Linked DNA regions of Homo sapiens. The protein of the gene in region 1 purifies or fractionates together with the protein of each later gene. This does not show direct contact. Each region holds a gene or a part of one and is shown in the gene's direction. Other genes may lie near its edges.

Region 1 (7,021 bases):
CACAACCAGGGCCACAGATGGGATAACCATTCTTTTATTTATGTTTTGTTTTTGTTGTTGTTGTTGTTGTTGTTGTTGTTGTTGTTGTTGTTGTTGTTTGAGATGGAGTCTTGCTCTGTCACCCAGGCTGGAGTACAGTGGCTCAGTCTTGGCTCACTGCAGCCTCCGCTTCCCGGGTTCAAACAATTCTCCTGCTTCAGCCTCCCGAGTAGCTGGGATTATAGGCACCTGCCACCATGCCTGCCTAATTTTTGTATTTTTAGTAGAGACAGGGTTTTGCCATATTGGCCAGGCTGCTCTTGAACTCCTTACCTCAGGTGATCCGCCCGCCTTGGCCTCCCAAAGTGCTGGGATTACAGGCATGAGCCCCCGCGCCTGGCCAGGGTAACCATTCTTGATCAAACTAGAACACAAACCTTTGGGGAGCCTGGTATATCCAGCCTTTCCCCCCGCACCCAGTCACTATTCCCGCATTTAAGAAAAACCTACCTTTCCAGGGTCTGGTGGCTGGGCTTCTCTGCCTGTTGAACCAGCCACATTGTGTTTAGACAATCTGGCCATTCAGGGGTCCTCCTGTTGTAGCCAAGACAAACTCAAGATTTTGGGAAGAGCAGCAAATTGCCACAACCAGGGAATAGCTAGTATTTGAATAGTGCATGTCAGGGTTTGCTGCGTGGGGTTTTTGTTGTTGTTTTTAAATTGACTCTTGGTTACCTCCCTCTACACAGACAGCTACAGACAGTTCTTCTAATTCCTCTCAGAAGAGAGAGCAACCTACTCGGACAATCTCCTCTCCCACATCCTGTGAGCACCGGAGGATTTATACCCTGGGCCACCTCCACGACTCATACCCCACAGACCACTATCACCTCGATCAGGTGAGCAGCAGCCCTGTTCCTCTGAGGGCATCAGGGTGGTGCCTCTGATTCTGGAATGGCCTCTTTCCCCTCCTATTCAGCCAAATTCCATGACCACAGGCCTCTCCTGCTCCTGCCTTTACCCCCACTTCATATTGAAAGTGGCATTGGTGGTGGCACCTCAGCCTCATCCAGTGTTTTCTGTGTGCCAGACACCTTGCCAGACCCTTTATATGCTTTATGTGGTTTAATCCTCAGAAACTGCCCCACAAGGCAAGTCTTCAGCCTCCCCAGGTTATCGATGAGGAAGCTGAGGCTTAGAGAGGTGGAGTATCTGATGGAACGAGATTCAAATCCAAGCCTGTTCTCACCCAGGGGGCTACACTGCGTCCTGCATTCCTCTGTCCAAAGGGCCTCCCAGCTTTGTGTGGAAGCCCAGAGCCACAATCAGGACTAAGGAATGCTGCACACTTGGCTCGAGCCCCCAGCCTTACAGGCTACAGGCCCAGTCTTGCTCAGGCGGATGTAGCTGGAGCTCAGAATTCGGTAGTTCAACAAATATTTACCAAGTGGCTGCTTTGCAGAGCAAGTTCCCAAATCATGGGGCATGGACTGGTGCCTGTGTGGGGTGCTGTGGCCACTAGGCTGCTTTGAAATGAGAAAAAAGGGCAGTGAGTTGTTTTGTTTTGTTTTTAAACATAAAACTAGATTTATTTGACTCTTTTTAAAAAAATTATTTTAGATTGTGCTTCCTAATATTTTGGGATTAAAATGTCCTATTTAAAAATCACATTATTGGCCAGGTGCAGTGGCTCATGCCTGTAATCCCAGCCCTTTGGGAGGCCGAGGCAGGTGGATCACAAGGTCAGGAGATTGAGACCATCCTGGTTAACACGGTGAAACCCCGTGTCTACTAAAAATACAAAAAATTAGCTGGGTGTGGTGGCGGGCGCCTGTAGTCCCAGCTACTCGGGAGGCTGAAGCAGGACAATGGCGTGAACCCAGGAGGTGGAGCTTGCAGTGAGCCAAGATTGCGCCATTGCGTCATCGCAACAGAGCAAGACTCCATCTCAAAAAATAAATAAATAAATAAATATCACATTATGCTAGCAGTAGATGGAAATTAACTTTTTTACTTTCCTTACTGTCCAAAATAAAGAATTAGTAAAGCCCGTGTCAGTTTCCGAGATTTGTTTTGAAATCCTTCTGAAATCATGATTTTCAAAAATCTAGGCAACTCTGATACCAAGAATTTGACAGGAATTAAGGTAAAATGTGTGGGACATGGCCCTGCCCTCTGGTAGGAAGTGATGGGTAAATCTAATAAGCGCATGATCAAGTCCGTAACAATATGATAATGACTGTGATGGCGAGAGTTATCAAGTGCATCCTGTGAGCAAGGCTGTGAGCTGACACCCTCTGTAGATTGTTTCTCTTCATTCTCAAAACAGTCCTATGCAGTTCGACAGAAATGGAACCTGAGTCTTAGGTACTAGCTAGAAAATGTCAGCATTTGACTGCAGTGAGTCACTCCAGAGCCACGTTCCTCAACCCCTGAAAAACCTTCATGCCCAAAGGACTTCGAAAGCAAGAAGTCTCAGTTCTCTGCCTCCACTGAGAGGCCCTGGGTGAGCCAGGGTTATATGCATGTAATTAATAAATATTTATTCAGTGTCTGCTGCTCTGGACAAGGCAGGGTTGCAGCCTGTAGCAGGACTAACTGCAGAGAAAAGCCTCTTCCACCCTGAGGGAGAATGCAGCTTAGATTTGCAGGTTTCTAGAGGGTGTGGCTCTTGGTCTGGCCACTCACTATTTGTGAGATCCTGGCAGGAGTGAAACTTCAGTTTCCGGAGCCTTCACTCTATCCTTCTCCTGTCCGCATCTCACCAGATGACATGGTGAGCTACTGTTTCCTAGTGTCCCCTGTCTCTTGAAGGAGACACCCACAGGGAGAAATGCATCTCCTATTGTGATCCTTTGTGGACATATTGTGCACATATGGATAATGAAGTTTCGTAAAACAGGACTTACCTTCTCACATGTATTGCACTCCAGTGTCCTTATTCTATTTCAATTTTTAAAAAGCCAGCCTTACAAAAGAGAACATACCATACAAAAATAGGCAAAACTAATGCAGGCCTTTAGAAGTGAGTGTAGCCCTCACACTGGGGCTAGGAGATCCCTGAGGGAGGCGGAAGATACTCTGGGGCACAGGTCCTGTTCTGCCTCTTGATCTGAGTGTGCCATGCTCCTGAGAACGCATCACACTGTGCCCTTGCCATGTGCACACTCCCCTGCCTGTATGGCAGTGCGTCACCAGAAAGGGAAAATACTGCCGGTCTCAACCCACGAAATTGATTTCCTGGCCCATTAATGGATTGAGACTCTATTTGAAATACATCTCTGACTGGGCGACAGGATATTCAGTAATTTCAGGAAGGGTCTGTTTCTTCACGGAGCATCGTGATGGAGTTATCGAGAAAGGTGCATTTTGGACGGCTAGGGAGGGAGAAGGTGGGGTGTTTTTTTGTTTGTTTGTTTTTTGGCCGCTGCTGTAAAATAATGTCTCCTCTCCTACGGGACAGCCGATGCCAAGGCCCTACCGCCAGGTGAGCTTCCCGGACGACGACGAGGAGATCGTGCGCATCAACCCCCGGGAGAAGATCTGGATGACGGGGTACGAGGATTACCGGCACGCACCCGTCAGGGGCAAGTACCCGGACCCCTCGGAGGACGCGGACTCCTCCTACGTGCGCTTCGCCAAGGGCGAGGTCCCCAAGCATGACTACAACTACCCCTACGTGGACTCCTCAGACTTTGGCCTAGGCGAGGACCCCAAAGGCCGCGGGGGCAGCGTGATCAAGACGCAGCCCTCCCGGGGCAAGTCGCGGCGGCGGAAGGAGGACGGAGAGCGCTCGCGGTGCGTGTACTGCAGGGACATGTTCAACCACGAGGAGAACCGCCGGGGCCACTGCCAGGACGCGCCCGACTCCGTGAGAACTTGCATCCGCCGGGTGAGCTGCATGTGGTGCGCGGACAGCATGCTCTATCACTGTATGTCGGACCCCGAGGGAGACTATACAGACCCTTGCTCGTGCGATACTAGCGACGAGAAGTTTTGCCTCCGGTGGATGGCTCTTATTGCCTTGTCTTTCCTGGCCCCCTGTATGTGCTGTTACCTGCCCCTTCGGGCCTGCTACCACTGCGGAGTGATGTGCAGGTGCTGTGGCGGGAAGCACAAAGCGGCCGCGTGACTCAGTTTCCCTCCCTTCTCCCTCCATCCGCAGCCACAGGGGAACTCGTCTCTTACATACTCTCATCTTCTCCCCCGCTCCCTTCCACTCCAAGGAGCGAGGAGGGCAAGCGGCCTCCCAGCTCCCTGGTACCTCGAGGCACCATTCCAGCCAGGGACGCTGCCGGGTAGACTCTCCACTCCCCCTGCCGCCCACACTGCAGCAGCCACATCCATACACACACGCTCGCACAGTGTTCTGAGGAAGGAACCTTCGCCACAGACTCCTGTACTATTAACAATCTGTAACCAAGCTAACTGTCTCATCCATGTGTTGATTTCCTGTTTCCTCCTCCCCCGCCTCTTCCAGTTCAAAGGAGTCTGCAATTGGAACTGCTGATTTTCGGTGGGTTTTGTAGTTGATTTTTCCAAGAGCGTCGAAGACTCTCTTTCTCTTGGTTCACCTTGCCTGTCGCTAGCAAGCATCTGGTTCAGCGGAAATGGGATGTGAGAATGATGAAACCCGACAGAAGTATCTCAGCCTGCAGTCAGTTATTATGTATAGGAGGTGAGCTAGTTAACAAACTTGTACCACAAAACAATATCGCTTTAACTTTTCTAAAGCCAAATTTCCCATGTAAGCTGCAGTTTCTATCTTTAGCCCATCATCATTTTCTGCCCCCCCAAAATCTGTTGAAATGATTCACTGATGCAAAACATTCACCCGTAATAGACTGAGAATTGAGCCTTAACTTCAGATTAACTTGTGAGAATCAGGAAAATTCCTTCAACTGCATTGCATCCTCTTGGACCAGGGCTAGAATGGGGATTTCAGGTTTCTATGAGCCTCCCCATTACCCCTAAAGTAGAACATTTTTTAAATTGTGTTGCCACCACTTCTAAAAATTTAGCAATATTAGAATAGGATACTAGTGAAGTAAGAAATTTTGCTTGTTGTTTTGCAAACCAAATAGTTTCCTCAAACACAAATCAGTGTTCCCACGAACAAGTTCCAGTTGAGAAACACTAAGGTTATGGTGAATAAAACCATAGGGAGCTTCTTCCCCCCAACCCCTGGCTATTTTATATTAATGGGGAGAGGGGATTTTTAAATGTCATAAATTTGAAGAGTGGTGGGTTGCATTTTCTTCATGGGTTTATGTTTTCGTTTCATTTTGGACTCAATTTCACATCACCAAATTCCTCATTTATACTTGGGGAAAAAACAAGGCCATATGTAAAAACCCTTCCAATGCCTAAGTGTCTTTCTCCTGCAACTCCAAACCCAGACTCGCCACTTTGGGTGCACAGGTGGTTAGGTCAGCCAACTGGTTCTGCCTGTCGCCTTGCCACGGAGGAGGCTTCTAATTAGCTGGAAAAGAGTATTTTTCTAATACGTTGCAAGGATTAGCCAAATCTTCTTATTGAAGAAAGAAGAAAAGTGAAGAGTGGTTACCTATACCTAGCATAGTACAATCAGAACCTCGTGGAGACCACCGGGGACAGGCTTGCGGACGCCGGCTGTTCTTCCCGCCACGATCTTTCTGTGGTAGCGGCCAGCAGAAGACATGGCCTGCTCCCCACTCCCTTTCCCCACTCCTTCTTTATTGCACACAGGACACCAGTCTTCAAGGAAAGGGACTTTTTTCCAGTCTGCCAATCATATTGGGAAAGTGCTAGCTGTGCTCACCTTCATGGGGCTGTTTCCAGCTCGTCCACAAGCTCATCGATTTTCTTTAGTAGATTACCGGTGTAAATACCCAGTGTGCTTATGAGTCAGTTAGTAGACGTCTTCATTCATTGGAGTAACTGGTTTAGGCTTTCCAGTTTGGAAAAGGAGCAGAGAGCTGTCCATCTGGATTGATGGAAGAAAAGAGAACCTCATCCATGCCTGGAGAACATCTAGAAAACCTTCAGCCAGCCTCCAGTGCTGTCGAGAGACCACCTTCCCCCGACCCGGAGGCACTTCCTTGGGGTCTTTCTCTAGGGTCTCTTCTCTACAAAGCACAACACTAATGTTCGTTTCCTTAGACCTCAGTTCAAGTGCCCCTATTTATTTCAATAAGAACGCACATATCCCAGCTGTTTTTTGTTTGTCACCTCTATTTAGTTGTTACCTGTTTCTCTCTTCTTTCACCCCTTGTCCTTTTCCACCCTTTTAAGAGTTACGCTAGCAGATCTTACTCCACGTATACTTTTTGGTTTGTGAAGGCATCGGTTAAGGGCACAAAGACAGCCATGGGGACATTTATGTAAATACGTCTCTAATTGCCACACTGCAGCTGAACAGTGTGTAGTATTTTCCCAGTCAGCTTTGCCATACTGACGTCAATCATTTGAGAGAAATTATTCAGATTTTATTTTTGTATCTGTGGTAACAAAACATTAACCAAAAGATTTTCTGTCCAGAAGCCTCCCCGACCCCCCAAGCTATTTGCTCACATTAACAAATTAAAGTGCCTGAAGCATAATTCATTCTTTACCTGTATACTAAAAACCCTGTTGTATTGATTTTTTTATAATAAGCCTTTTTACCTCTGTGTAAAAAATATATATACAAGTGTATGATGTACATTTTAGTTCTTAACTTTTTTTTATGGTTTCTAATATGTATGACCAATGTAGCCATTGCTTTAAAATGTACCGTGTAAATATAAACACATCCTATCAGATCGCTGGCTTTGGGGTATTTGTCTGGCAGGAGACGAGGTGATGCTAGAGCGTTGGCAGATCTTGGAGTTCCCGCATACAGGATGGGACAGGGCTTCCTGTGCCGAAGGACATGTGGACACCGGTCTGTTTTTTCAAGGCCCTTTCCTCCTATGGTTATGTCATATTCCCAAGGGGAGACTGCAGCTCCTTGGGCTCGGATGCCTCAGTGAAAGGAAGGCTGCAGGCCACCGCCCAGGAACACCCCCTCTTCCTAGGCCTG
Region 2 (7,680 bases), on another chromosome or scaffold:
CATGAAATATTTTGATACAGGCATACAATGTGTGAAAAGCACATCAGGGTAAATAGGGTATACATGACCTCAAGCATTTATTGTTTGTTTTACAAAAAATCCAATTATACTCTTATTTTAAAATGTATAATAAATTATTGTTGGCTATAATCACCCTTTTGTGCTATCAAATACTAGATTTTATTCACTTTATCTAACTTATATTTCTGTACCCATTAACCATCCCCAGTCCCCACCCCACTACCCTTCCCAGCCTCTGGTAACCATCATTCTACTATCTCCATGAGTTCAACTGTTTCAATTTTTACTGCCAAATAAGTGAGAACATGTGAGGTTTGTGTTTCTGTGTCTGGCTTTTTCACTTAACATAATGACATCCAGTTCTATCCATGTTGTTGCAAATGAGATGATCTCATTCTTTTTTATGGCGGAACGGTACTCCATTGTTTATTTGTACCACATTTTCTTTACTCATTCATTCATCTGTTGATAGACACTTAGGTTGCTTTTAAATCTTGGCTATTGTGAATAGTGCTGCAGTAAACAAGGGAGTGCTGATACCTCGATATACTGGTTTCTTTTCTTTTGGGTCTATAGCTAGCAGTGGGATTCCTGGGACATACTGAAGCTCTATTTTTAGTTTTTTCTGAGGAACCTCCAAGTTGGTCTCCATAGTGGTGGTACTAATTTACATTCTCACCAACAGTGTACAAGAGTTCCCTTTTCTCCACATCCTCACCAGCATTTGTTATTGTCTATCTTTTGCATAAAAGCCACTTTAATTGGGGAGAGATGATATCTCATTGTAGTTTTGATTTGCATTTCTCCTGATGATCGGTGATGTTGAATACCTTTTCATATACCTGTTTGCCATTTGTAAGTCTTCTTTTGAAAAATGTTTACTCAGCTTTTTTGCCCATTTTTAAAGCGGGTTATTAGATTTTTTTCCTATATAGTTGAGCTCCTTATATATTCTGGTTATAAATCCTTTATCAGATGGATAGTTTGCAAATATTTCTTCCCATTCTGTGAGTTGTCTCTTCACTTTGCTGATTATTTCCTTTGTAATGCAGGTTTTTATTTTTATTTTTTGAGACAGGGCTTCTCTGTTGCCCATGCTGGAGTGCAGTGGCATGATCACAGCTCACTGCAGCCTTGACCTCTGCAGGTTCCCAAGTAGCTGGGACCACAGGTACATGCCACCATGTCCAGCTTTTTGTATTTTTGTCAAGATGGGGTTTTGACTTTGCCATGTTGCCCAGGCTGTTATACAACTCCTGGGTTCGAGAAATCTACCTGCTTCAGCCTCCCAAAGTGCTGGGATTACAAGCGTAAGCCACCGTGCCTGGCCCTGTGCAGGTTTTTAACTTGATGTAATCCCATTCGTTCATTTTTGCTTTGGTTGCCTGTGCTTGTAGGGCATTATTCAAAAAATCTTTACCCAATCCAATGTCCTGGAAAGTTTCTGCACTGTTTTCTTTTCTTTTTTTGAGAGATGGGTCTCACTCTGTCACCCCGGCTGGAGTGCAATGGCGTGATCTCCGCTTACTGCAATCTCTGCCTCCCGGATTCAAGTGATTCTCCTGCCTCAGCTTCCCAAGTAGCTGCGACTACAGGCATGTGCCACTACGCCCAGCTAATTTTTGTATTCTTAGTAGAGACAGGATTTCACTATATGTTGGCCAGGCTGGCCTGAAACTCCTGACCTCAGGTGATCCACCTGCCTCGGCCTCCCAAAGTGCTGGGATTACAGGTGTAAGCCACCATGCCCCAACTCCAATGTTTTCTTATAGACGTTTCATAGTTTGAGGTCTTAGATTTAAGTCTTTAACCCATTTTGATTTGATTTTGGTATACGAGGAGAGAGACATCTAGCTTCATTCTTCTAATACGGATATTCAGTTTTCCCAGCACCATTTATTGGAGGGACTGTCCTTTCTCCAATGTATGTTCTTGGCACCTTCGTAAAAAACGAGTTCACTGTAGGTGAATGAATTTGTTTCTGGGTTCTCTATTCTGTTCTACTGGTCTATGTTTTTTTTTTTTTTATGCCAGTACCATGCTGTTTTGGTTACTATAGCTCTGTTGTATAATTTGAGGTCAGGTAACATGATTCCTCCATTTTTATTCTTTTGGCTCAGGGTAACTTTGGTGACTCTGGGTCTTTTATGGTTCTGTATAAGTTTTAGGATTGTTTTTAATACTTCTGTGAAGAATGTCATTGGTATTTTGATAGAGATTGCACTGAATCTGTAGATTGCTTTGGGTATTAGAGACATTTTAACTATATTGAATCTTCCAATACATGAACATGGAGTATCTTCCCATTTTTTTTGTGTCCTCTTCAATTTCTTGCATCAGTGTTTTATGGTTTTCTTTGTACAGATCTTTAACTTCCTTGGTTAATTCCTAAGTATTTTATTTGTAGCTATTGTATATATTTTTTTCTCCAAACTTCAATTTCCTTAGCCATTATAAAAACAGAATAAGCTCATTCTTTGAGAAAGAAGTCAGAATTGTGAAATCCCCCTTTGAAGAGATTCAGCTTTTAGTTAAAGTACAAAGTACAGCATGTGACTCTTATTTATTCAAATTCTGAATTTAGACCTAGTGAACTAAAGAACTTAGGGTACTAATTAATTGAATACGGTGAAGATCTCAGGTAAATTTAAATTGACAGTGCTCTGCTGACAAAACATAAAGTGACAGATTACTTGGTGGTCTTTTCTTGGCATTTATTGCTAAAAGAATCCTCTTGGTGACAACAGGCCAGTCTTCAACCAACTGAACAGTGAGCATCTATGTCTGTACAGTTGGTAACATGTTTGAAATGTCTTAGATCATTGTGGAAGGTCAAAGAACATCTAAACAAAAGTTTAAGAGATACAGATAGTTCATAAACTATATTTACTGGTAATCACTTCAGATGCAACTGAACTTAAAGTTATCTCAATGGTTTTGTTTTTTTTTTTTTGAGACGGAGTCTCACTCTGTCGCCAGGCTGGAGTGCAGTGGTGCCATCTCGGCTCACTGCAACCTCTGCCTCCCAGGTTCAAGCGAATCTCCTGCATCAAGCCTCCTGGGCAGCTGGGACTCCTGGGTGGCGCGCACCACCACGCCCAGCTAATTTTTGTATTTTTTAGTAGAGACGGTTTCCCCACGTTGGCCAGGATGGTCTCGATCTCTTGACCTCGTGATCTGCTCGCCTCAGCCTGCTAAAGTGCTGGGATTACAGGCGTGAGCCACCATACCAGGCCTCAATGTTTTATTTTTCTTTTGTATCCTAAATAGAATCTTTAAACACACGCTACAAAAAAATAACACCTGGTGTTTGAGACAGCACTCCAGTCTGTGGTTTCCCAATGCAGCAGTTAATAAAAAAGCAACAATTTTTTTTTTTTCTGAAACTGTTTCGGCCTAAAACACTGCTTATTCCTCAACAGTCTCCCTCACAGAAGTAATTATTGGACCATATATTCCCTAAAATCTCTTCCAGCATTAACATACCACGGTTCTAAGAGTTCAGTGATATATTTTACAACTACTGTAAAACAGATCATTCTTTGAATAGATACTTGTGTTTAATCTTACAAATCTGTAAAGTATGAATGACGTTTTAGCATTATACAGTCAACAAAGCACCAAAGGTGAAATAATTACAATACCTTTTGGGAAAAGACAATATTTATTGAGATAGCTTTCACATTCTTTTTACATATAATGTCATTTCATTCCGAAAAACAACTCTACGAAGCTGTATAATTTACTTTGAAATAAGGAAATAAAGCCTCAGTAACTTAAGTGGCTTGCCCAAGAATACCGTAAGTAGCAGAGCCAGAATTCAAACCCTGGTTTTAACCCCAATCATTACATCCGTATGAATTAAGTAAAATGCTAAACTTACGATGTACATTTTTGCGAACTGATATAAACTGTTGAGTAAATAAATTAGATTTTGTTGACCAGTGCAATTACACATGCTTCCCTAATAAAAAATTTGAAATCCATTAATGATAAAATTATTAACATTAATGGAAAACATCAGCGCATTCGGAGATTGACTACCCGAAAAGAAATAGGAAACATCTGCCCTTAGTGCTGTGACATAACACACATATTTCCGTGGATGAAAGAAAGACCTACTGGCTGAGCCTATTTTGTTTGGTTAGACCCTACCCTCTCTCCTAAAAACTCCTTTGGTACTCAATTTCAAGCAGGAGGTAATAAATTACAACGGAAATACTAAAGAGCAAACTTTCCGGAAACACAAAAATAAGTTTTATTTTAAAAAGTACAATAAGCATTAATTCTCCAGAGTAAATGGGTAACCGAGCAGACAGGTGTAATCTTCAGCCAGCACCTTGGCTTCTTCACAATCTCCTTCAGAAAAACCGATTCAAGAGCTAAGAAGCCAGTAAAGTCAAACCTCGAGAAGATCCCTTCTCCAGCGAATCAGCGCCCCTGCTCCCCGCCCGCCCGGCTCCGCTGGGTACGCGACAGCGACCTCCGCGCCTGCTCTCCGCCTCGGGTCAGCGGGGCTGGGGGTTGGGGGTGGAACTGAAAATGCCTGTTGGCCAAACTCGGGTCACAGAGAGACACGCCTGTACGGGGCGGGGGTGTGCGGGTGACTCACGCCGGGTGCACAGTAGCTCCTACGCCTCACCCAGTATCTCCCCTCACTTCCCTCAACCCTTCCCACAAACTGGGAGGAAAACTGAGACCTCCTGGTCACCCGCCGCCGGGCCTTTTAGAAACTCCCACAAGCTCTGCCTTCCCTCCCTGGTCCTCTTCAGACCCCCTCTTAGTTCTTCGCGGCTAACGGTAAGCTCTCTCCTTACCTCTCCCTAATCGGCCCCTCTGGAGAGGAAAAGAAAACTTAAGAGTCGGGTCGCGCTAGCCTCCAGCAGCCGCCGCGCCCACCGACTGCTCCGCCCCTTCTCCTCCCCCTCCTCCAGGCTCGCGCTCGGGGCCGGGTGTGGAGCTGGAACAGAGGGCTGGCAAGGCGCGCATGCGCACCGAGGGTGGAGCCGCTGAGCACAGAACCGGAAACTTAGAGACAAAGTTCGGAGCCCCGCCCCCGCCGCGCGCCGCTGAGTTGTCTGGCCCCGCCGACCCACGGCCCACGACCCACCGACCCACGAATCGGCCCGGCCGTCGCGTGCACCATGTCTGGCTCCTCCAGCGTCGCCGCTATGAAGAAAGTGGTTCAACAGCTCCGGCTGGAGGCCGGACTCAACCGCGTAAAAGTGAGCGGGGGCGGGCGGCCGAGGCGGGAGGAAGGCGGCGGCGGCGGGTGGGATCCGGCGGCCCAGCTGGCGGGGGCGGGCGGGACACGCGCCGGCCCTCGCTTCCCCTGGAGAGGACGCGCGCTCAGCGGCGGCGATCGGGGAGCGGCCAGCTTTAGAGCAGGCGCCGCGTGGGTCTACGCTGTGTTTTAGGGGGACGATTAGTTCGCCCTTCCGCCCCAGGACTTTCCGAGGCGGGCTGGCCCCTGGGTTGAACCGTGGCCGACATTCCGGTCCTCCTCCGTCTCTACCTCCCTTGGCAGCCTTCTCGGCTGGTCTCACCAACAGCTGCGCCTCCGCGCGCTGTCCGCACCCTTCCTTTCCCACTTTGCCAGCCTCCTGTTTCTCATCGGACAGGGTATTTTCCGACTTTTGATTCAGAGCAGACTTTTCTCCCATTTGATCTTTCCCAAACCTACTTCCTTTAGTATTAAATTCTTACCTTCAACTTCTCTTGTCCGTTGAACACATACTTTTAAGCGAATTATTGCATAACTTAAACTGTGGATTGAATAAGCATTTTTCGAAACGATCCTGGAGTGTAAAGTTCCGGTCAGTGCCCCGTACAACCTCGAACAAAGCGTGCATTTCATACCTATGGCACAGTTTGCTCATATTTGACCTTGGGGATATCGACTGGTCCGCATGCCGGAGAAAATGATTATTGTGGGTAATTATTGGTCTTATTTTGGCGTCTGGTTAGTATTGGCCTTGTCTTGGGGTACTTTGGGAGAAAAAGCCTTTTGTCTGTGTTGATAGAATAACTTGACATTCAAGTGCTGTTCTAAGTATTTCCTGATTTTTACAGTCCTAAATGGATTGGCTTCTTTCTGGTACAATAGGTCAGGCTACATGTGAAACACTTCTGCAGTTAAAAAAAGAAACAAGAATGTAAATCATGTGCCCTGTTAAAAGCAGCCAGTTCCTAAGATGATTTGATTTTATACTCATCAGGCTAGTCTTTATTACTTGCCGAAATGTTTTGTGAACTGAGAGGGTCTCTAAGCTTTCTTAACTAGAAGTGTCAGAGACCTAGCTTACTCAGTTGTGGTCACCTCAGAAGGGAAGGGAAATTCTCATTCGTCTTGGTGCAGGATCCTCCTGAGAGAGAGTCTCCCATTTAGTTTTGTTAACTAGAAATGTCAGGGACCTAGCTTACTCAGTTGTGGTCAACTCAGAAGGGAAGGGAATTCTCATTCGTCTTGGTGTGGGATCCCCCTCACGTCCAGTCCTTGAAATGCTGTAGACCTCACTGCAGTTTGGAATCCATTTCTCTACTCTCCCAATTCTTACCTCATCACAGTGGTTTCTAGTCAGTCTTGGCTGGATTTGGCTCTGAAACTCGAAATCATTTATTTCGTAACCATTAAATGTCATTCAGGTGTGCCTTTATCATAGATAGGATGGACCAAGAAAAAAAAATGGGGGTGGGATAGTGAAAGCAATAAATTGTACATCTTTAGTCTCCAAAGAAAATGACATGAGGTTCTCAGGCTAAAATACTCCAAGAGCTTTACTTTGAAAACCCTAGCTGCTGCTCCCCTAATTCCCCAAAACTGATCCTACCTAAATCTTCAGTAGACTTCTGGTTCTGGTCGGGATCATTAAAGGCACCAGACATGATTTGGTTTTGGAGTTATTGCCTGATGTTAAGGCTGTAGCAAGAAGGGGAGCATCCCCTTTTGTACTTTTTAATGAGCTTTTCTTTAGACATGTTGCTAAATGTGGTTTAACGTTGTGTATCTGTTTTATCAATGACTGGGCTAGGTGATTTTTTTGTGAGATTTTTAAACTAGCACAATCTTACTTTTAACCTTTATGTGTGAGTACAATTGATAGAACTTACCATAAGTGCTTGACAAACTGTCATAGGTAGGTCAGGACATTTTTGAGAGTGAGAAGGGGCACTAATAGGCCAGGATTACAGGGTTTCAACCTCCTGGATGGTGATTGTTACAGTGCCTTAGGGGCTAGCAGCTTGTTCCAGTTTTAGAGTCTTTGTCTCAGCTTTCCTCACTGTTTGGAATGCTGTTTCTCACTGATGGTTATTTGGCTGGATCTCTTGTCATTGAGATCTCAGCTTCAATGTCACCTCAGACACCTTCCCTTAGGTGGGCACCCAGTCACCATCTAAAAGATTATTCATTTTACTACAGAGCACCTTGTCTGTCATTTTCTCTGAACTGTTAGCTCCATAACAACAGGGCTCTGGCTGTTCTTATGTATTCTTAGTGCCTGTAAGTATATGCGGCACATAGTGGTGCTTGAAAATTGTGAAAGCGAGTTACATTGGACCCCACCTACACTTTAAACAGAAAATTAACAGGTACTCTTTATGCTTCCTGCTGGTTAATATGAATGAAAACACTAAACACTATTACAATATTTGGTGAAA

Evidence for each region. The genes of interacting proteins can lie anywhere in the genome.
Region 2: the proteins of SPRED2 (region 1) and GNG5 purify together in Homo sapiens (affinity purification with mass spectrometry; 2 studies listed by BioGRID and IntAct, with this or other methods). This does not show direct contact.

What each region holds. Positions count from the first base shown.
Region 1 is NC_000002.12:65,310,591-65,317,611, reverse strand, and holds the end of SPRED2 (sprouty-related, EVH1 domain-containing protein 2), read left to right. Parts: intron 1-728; coding exon 729-878; intron 879-3,442; coding exon 3,443-4,111; 3' UTR 4,112-6,761; downstream 6,762-7,021. UniProt on the Homo sapiens protein: Negatively regulates Ras signaling pathways and downstream activation of MAP kinases. Recruits and translocates NF1 to the cell membrane, thereby enabling NF1-dependent hydrolysis of active GTP-bound Ras to inactive GDP-bound Ras.
Region 2 is NC_000001.11:84,503,577-84,511,256, reverse strand, and holds the start of GNG5 (guanine nucleotide-binding protein G(I)/G(S)/G(O) subunit gamma-5), read left to right. Parts: upstream 1-4,675; 5' UTR 4,676-4,821; intron 4,822-4,838; exon of another isoform or gene 4,839-4,871; intron 4,872-4,955; 5' UTR 4,956-5,165; coding exon 5,166-5,246; intron 5,247-7,680. UniProt on the Homo sapiens protein: Guanine nucleotide-binding proteins (G proteins) are involved as a modulator or transducer in various transmembrane signaling systems.